2 linked regions of the Homo sapiens genome follow. The protein of the gene in region 1 interacts with the protein of each later gene in a biochemical or structural test. Each region holds a gene or a part of one and is shown on either strand. Other genes may lie near its edges.

What was found.
Region 2: the proteins of CALCR (region 1) and LRP1 form a complex in vitro, tested with the Homo sapiens proteins (one study listed by BioGRID).

The regions. Positions count from the first base shown.
Region 1 is NC_000007.14:93,427,996-93,431,815, reverse strand, and holds part of CALCR (calcitonin receptor isoform 2 precursor), read left to right. Parts: intron 1-3,820. UniProt on the Homo sapiens protein: G protein-coupled receptor activated by ligand peptides amylin (IAPP), calcitonin (CT/CALCA) and calcitonin gene-related peptide type 1 (CGRP1/CALCA).
Region 2 is NC_000012.12:57,208,426-57,211,434, forward strand, and holds part of LRP1 (prolow-density lipoprotein receptor-related protein 1 preproprotein), read left to right. Parts: intron 1-285; coding exon 286-392; intron 393-657; coding exon 658-774; intron 775-1,266; coding exon 1,267-1,443; intron 1,444-1,603; coding exon 1,604-1,744; intron 1,745-1,881; coding exon 1,882-2,055; intron 2,056-2,292; coding exon 2,293-2,454; intron 2,455-2,750; coding exon 2,751-2,925; intron 2,926-3,009. UniProt on the Homo sapiens protein: Endocytic receptor involved in endocytosis and in phagocytosis of apoptotic cells. Required for early embryonic development. Involved in cellular lipid homeostasis.

The sequences.
Region 1 (3,820 bases):
TCTCCGTACATCGTGGATAAAATAGTTTATAGAAGGAAGTAGCATGATCAGAAACATCTCCATTTAACTGTCACAAATTGGAGTGTGCAAAAGCTAAAATTTTGTTTATTTCCTGTAGCTTATCTTGCTTTCAAGAGACTATTCCACCAGCCTCTAGTGGTTTACAGCAGTCTCTTTATAGAAAATATTCAGTCAATTCAAAAAGCCTTTGTCCAAAAGAGCAACTGGCTACCAAGTTTTAATGCCAGCACCTGCTGTTGAAGTTCACGCTGGTTCCCCTTACTACTAAGCCCTCGAGAAGTCTTTTCACCTGTGGCCTCCTTGATGAAGCCACAGCCCTATTCTGATTCACAAGTTCTTTCCGCCAAGCCACCCGAGGAGCCTGGAACTCCAGCTCCTTTCTTCACACCACATAGAGCCTGTGAATCTATCTTCAGCACATGCCATAGCCGTTGCTGCTCCGCTGTTGGACATGGTGCCAGGGGCAAATGTGGAGTTTCTTTTCAGGGCTGGCTATTTTCAGGACTGTGCTCTCGAAACAAAAAGAAAAACTTGATGTAATGGAGGGTTCCTAAGAAAGCAAATGATCTTTTGCTTGATTTCTTCTGCCCATTTTCCCAGGTACTCCCACCACGAAGGGAAATGCAAGGCCATTTGTGTGTCTTTCTCTCCTCTTCCTCTCAGGCCTCTTGGGGCTGTGCACTCACCACTTCCCCTTCCTGTCTGTGAGGGTCTCTACCTATATCATATTCTACATGTTCTCTACCCTGTAGCTTTTAGTAAAACACTATCTGCAGACCAGTAAGATTTTCACAACATATGCAAAGAGAAGTTTCTTCTGTTTAGAAATTCTCCCACTCAATAAAGCCTGATTTTCAATACAATGTCTTTCTAGAGACATAAGAAAGCCAGCTTTGAGTCTCAATGCTAAGCAATAATTTTCCTTGTTCTAGACCAGTATTCTCAAACTTGAGTGTACATCAGAATCACCTGGAAGATTTCTGAAACCAGGGATTGCTTGGCCCCAGCAGCAGTTTCCTATTCAGTAGGTCTGGGGTGGGGTTTGAGAATTTGCATTTCTAACCAAGTTCCCAGGTGATACTGATGCTGCTGACCCAGAGACTTCACTTTAAGAACCACTATTCTAGACACAATCACACTTGTTCTTCAAGCAGTGGATGACCTTGACTTAATGAACTGGGGAGATGTAGGAAATTTTATTTAAGAAAATTAAGAAATACAATGGCTGAATGTTTTCAAAAAGTTTAACTTTATCATAAATGATACTTAGGTATTGTTACCCTTTAGAGCAAGGAATCTTCCCCAAACATAAGAAAAGAGATAATGAATGGGAATCAGAAAGCTCTGATTCTATAATCAAGTACTCAACTCAAATTATAGAGCATATAAATTTTGTAAGATAAAATCAGAGACCAGTAGAGATATTGCTGCTATGGCCTCCGAAAGACTGAAAAGAATGTTGACAACAACTTTGTAAATAATATTCACAAGTATCCCTTAGCATCTAATTAATAGGGCTTAATACGAATCTAGCTTTCAGAAGTTGTATAAAACCACCTAGGCCAGGCGTGGTGGCTCACGCCTGTAATCCCAGCACTTTGGGAGGCCAAGGCGGCTGGATCACAAGGTCAGGAGATTGAGACCATCCTGGCTAACACAGTGAAGCCCCGTATCTACTAAAAATACAAAAAAAAAATTAGCCGGGCTTGGTGGCAGGCCCTTGTAGTTCCAGCTACTTGGGAGGCTGAGGCAGAAGAATGGGGTGAACCCGGGAGGTGGAGCTTGCAGTGAGCCGAGATTGCGCCACTGCACTCCAGCCTGGGAGACAGCAAGACTCTGTCTCAAAAAAAAACAAAAAAACAAACAAACAAAAAAAAAAACCGTCTAAAGTGTGCAATTACTTTTTAACTTCTAGGGAATTTAAAGTGTTTTTTTTTTTTTAATCATGATTTTTAAATGTCAAGCTCAGGTTGCAGCAGGTCTGTTAGATTGTGGTGACAGTGTGAAGGAGTGGGCGTTACAATCTTTGCATTCATTGGATCAAAACTGCAGAGGTAAACCTCACCTTCTATTCCGCAGTACATAACTATAGTAGGTACTTAGAATGAACTCAGGAAAAGAAAGGCAAAAGACAAAAACATTCAAATCCAACCATGAAGACTCTAAACTTATTTTGTTTTGTACAAATGTAGGAACTGAGGCCTAAATATACAAAGGCCAAATATTACAAAGCTTATTAATAGAGCCAGGTATAATAGTTAAGTCTTCAAACTGTGAGGCCAGGGCTCTATTTTTATAAGTTGGCAATACATAAATAGATATAATCAGGAAAAAAAGTAAAGTGAATAGTGTGTATTGCTTTTTTAGTGAGTGATGAATTTATATAATTCAAATCTTTTTGTTGTTGTTACATTTATCCCACTTACAACTGAAAACATTTATTTTCAGGAGCAACAAAACTCTCCCTGTTTTGTTTTGTTTTGTTTTTCAGATTAAATGCCCTTATTCTTGTCATCAGAGCAGCATCAGACTCAACCTGTGATATTGTAGGAGATAATTGCCCTTATTAGTCTATAATTTTTTAAGTGTCTTTTTTATGCTGCTAAGGGCCTGTTATTATATGAATAGTTTACAAATCAAAGCACATTGCCATCTCCACACAAAAGGATGGGTTGTAATTTTGGACGCAATTAAAGAAGGCCGTGAACCTTTCTGTAATAATAACTTTTAAAAATTAAAATAGAAATCAAACCGTTTGGCCCCATGCTGGGCTGTGTACTTTATTAATATAAATGGATACTCTATGGGAGTTATTTTAAAAGGACAGGTGAGAAATAAAAGACCTCTTTTTCATGCTGCATACTTTTGCAAACTAACTCTAAACTCATAACTGCCTGCTTGGATACTTGTAAATATCTGTGTAAGTTTCAGCTACAAGGATAATCTTGGTATTTAAGAGATGCTGAATCCGTGGAAATTATCAGCTTCCTTTTTTTTTTTTTTTTTTTGAGACGGAGTCTCGCTCTGTTCCCCAAACTGGAGTGCAGTGGCATGATCTCGGCTCACTGCAAGCTCCGCCTCCCAGGTTCATGCCATTCTCCTGCCTCAGCCTCCTGAGTAGCTGGGACTACAGGCGCCGGCTAATTCTTAGTATTTTTAGTAGAGACAGGGTTTCACCGTGTTAGCCAGGATGGTCTCGATCTCCTGATCTCATGATCTGCCCGCCTCGGCCTCCCAAAGTGCTGGGATTACAGGCATGAGCCACCACGACCGGCCTATCAGCTTCCTTTGACTGGAGACATTGCTTCTCCAAAAATGTGCTGAACCTGTATATTTCCCAGTTTCTCAATGGGGCATTTGATGGTTCCTAGATTATAACCCTGGCATTTAAAGCTACGGTAATAGTACCACCCAAATAAAGCCAGGCTCTGCTTGGTACTGTGGCTTTGCCACATTCTAGCTATATGATTTTGGACACATTGCATAACCTCAGTGCCCCATCCATAAAGTGAAGATAGTAGTGCCCTTCCCATAGGGCTGTTGTGAGGATTAAATAAGTTAATACAAATCACATACTTATGATACGGTACTTAGTAAACACTCAATAAACAGCTGAAACTTGTTATTCTATCTTTTGTTCTTGCGTGGCTTTTTTCAATACAACTTTCAGCTGCATGGTCCACCTTATTCCTTAGCACTTAAAGTTTTTGTCTTTGTCCGTTTTAAATCACTTTAGATATAAAGTACCCTTCATGCAAGCACTCATTAACCCCAAAACAAAATAAAACAAAACTCAGGA
Region 2 (3,009 bases), on another chromosome or scaffold:
GGGATCTGACCTCTGCTTGGCCGGCTGTCATGCACAGCCACACTCTGCCCTGGGGAACAGCTCTGCCAGCGTCGGTGGCTCTGAATGAGCACACTGTGGTTTTAGAGGAAAAGCCCCTCAACCTGCTCAGAAGCAGACTCCCGCCTGCTTCTCTGTAGAAGGACAGAATGCCCTCCTCCCAGTCCCCAGCAGTCCCTGTCCCCAGACCAAGAAGCTGGTGTCCTGCCTGGGCCTGCCTCCTCTGGCCCTCCGGCCTGCCCACACTCACCCCTTCTCCCTCCCCAGGACCATGTACTGGTCAGACTGGGGCAACCACCCCAAGATTGAGACGGCAGCGATGGATGGGACGCTTCGGGAGACACTGGTGCAGGACAACATTCAGTGGCCCACAGGTTTGTGGGGCAGGGTGCAGGAGGGACGGGCATGGAGGGGGCCCGGCTCGCAGAGCCCAGCTGCTGCTGAAGTCACACAAAAGCAAGGGATGGGATGGGGCTTGGACTGGGGCAGGGCAGATTGGCCGTGGAGGCTTTTCCCGAAAGAGGTGACTGTGAGTGGCGTATGAACAGGGTGGAGCTGTCCCGGGCATGGAGGCAGTTCTTTCCACCCCGAGCCTGGGTTGGGGAGGCCAAGCTCTCACAGTGCTCTCTCTCTCCCCAGGCCTGGCCGTGGATTATCACAATGAGCGGCTGTACTGGGCAGACGCCAAGCTTTCAGTCATCGGCAGCATCCGGCTCAATGGCACGGACCCCATTGTGGCTGCTGACAGCAAACGAGGTCAGAGCCCGGCATAAGTCGCAGTCCCCAGCCCTGTCCCCAGCCTTGCCATCCTCCCTACTGAGCCAAAGGCCTCACTTCAATGCCTCCCATCCTTTGTCACTGACCCCCAGCAATGCTGCAGCGCCTTCCAGGCCTCTCCAGCTGGCCTCCCCCTGAACCAGCCCTGCAGGCCTGAGACCCACCCTGACCCTCTGGCCTACTTGTCCATTCATTGGTTGGGTTGCACGGAGGCAGCATAGGTACATTAGGAACGTAGCAAATTGGGGGAGAAGGAATAGAAGTCAGTCATGACTGACCCCAGAAGTCTGGGGGTGATGGGACCTTTTGCCAGTAGTGGCCACAGGAGGAGGAACCGGTGTGGGGAGAGAGAATTTGGTCTGGATGTGTTGAGTTTGAGGTGTCTGGGAACCACAGGTGCCAGTGTCGTGGACAGCATGGCCAGGGCCTGAGTGCCCCTCAGGTCCCCTCTGACTCCACCTCCTCCCCCAGGCCTAAGTCACCCCTTCAGCATCGACGTCTTTGAGGATTACATCTATGGTGTCACCTACATCAATAATCGTGTCTTCAAGATCCATAAGTTTGGCCACAGCCCCTTGGTCAACCTGACAGGGGGCCTGAGCCACGCCTCTGACGTGGTCCTTTACCATCAGCACAAGCAGCCCGAAGGTGGGGGCAGAGGGGAGCCTGGGCTGGGGAAGGGAGGCCTGTGGGCATTGAGTCTCCAAGCTGTGGCCCTGGGACCTGGTGGAGAGGGGGTCACCCTGGGCTCACAGGGCTCAGAGAAGGGTCCTGCTCAGCATCCTCCCCACCCCACCCATACCTGCAGTGACCAACCCATGTGACCGCAAGAAATGCGAGTGGCTCTGCCTGCTGAGCCCCAGTGGGCCTGTCTGCACCTGTCCCAATGGGAAGCGGCTGGACAACGGCACATGCGTGCCTGTGCCCTCTCCAACGCCCCCCCCAGATGGTATGCTTATGCCCTCCCAGTCCCAGCCATGCCTCAGGACCATCTCCTTCCTGTGGCTCCTGACTTCCCCTGACCTTGTTGCCTGTCCCTCTCCTCCTATTCCCCTGGCTCTGCCCCTTGACGGGCCCTTCCTGCAGCTCCCCGGCCTGGAACCTGTAACCTGCAGTGCTTCAACGGTGGCAGCTGTTTCCTCAATGCACGGAGGCAGCCCAAGTGCCGCTGCCAACCCCGCTACACGGGTGACAAGTGTGAACTGGACCAGTGCTGGGAGCACTGTCGCAATGGGGGCACCTGTGCTGCCTCCCCCTCTGGTATGCCCCCTCATCCCGCCACGCCTGCTCCTTGCCCCTGGGCCCCAGCCCCGCCACCCACCACCCCACCTCAGGCAAATGCCCAGCCCCTGCCTCGCCTCCAGCCTCCTTTCCACAACCCAGCATCCAGTCACTCCAGTCTCTGCTTCTCGCCCAGGTCCCCCCAGCCCATTCCTCTGCTATAGGGCCAGGTGGTCTCGAGGGCCACAGTCGCGCTCACACATCCTCTCCCACCAGGCATGCCCACGTGCCGGTGCCCCACGGGCTTCACGGGCCCCAAATGCACCCAGCAGGTGTGTGCGGGCTACTGTGCCAACAACAGCACCTGCACTGTCAACCAGGGCAACCAGCCCCAGTGCCGATGCCTACCCGGCTTCCTGGGCGACCGCTGCCAGTACCGTGAGTGAGCCATCCCTGGGCCCCAGGGCATGCGGGAGGGTGACGGGGGACCCCAGAGCATGGGGTGATGTTCAACCTGTGCCTGGGACCCACAGGGGCAAGTTCAGGAAAGAAGGCCTTATGCAGCTGAGCCAGGCCCAAGCTGCTGGCGCTTCCCCACAAAGGTGCTGGCACACTTCCCCTGAGGCAGTGCACCCCCTGCACCAAGATTATGCAAACAGAAAAGCTCTGTTCAACCTATGGAGAGCCCTCATGAGGGTGGGGCTTGAGGCACTTCTCTCCCTCCCCAACCACAGGGCAGTGCTCTGGCTACTGTGAGAACTTTGGCACATGCCAGATGGCTGCTGATGGCTCCCGACAATGCCGCTGCACTGCCTACTTTGAGGGATCGAGGTGTGAGGTGAACAAGTGCAGCCGCTGTCTCGAAGGGGCCTGTGTGGTCAACAAGCAGAGTGGGGATGTCACCTGCAAGTGAGTGGGGCCCTCCTCCACAGTTCCACCCAGCTGGGCCCCTGCCCTGTCCTAGCCCTGCCCTGCCCCTCCCTTCCTCAGCAT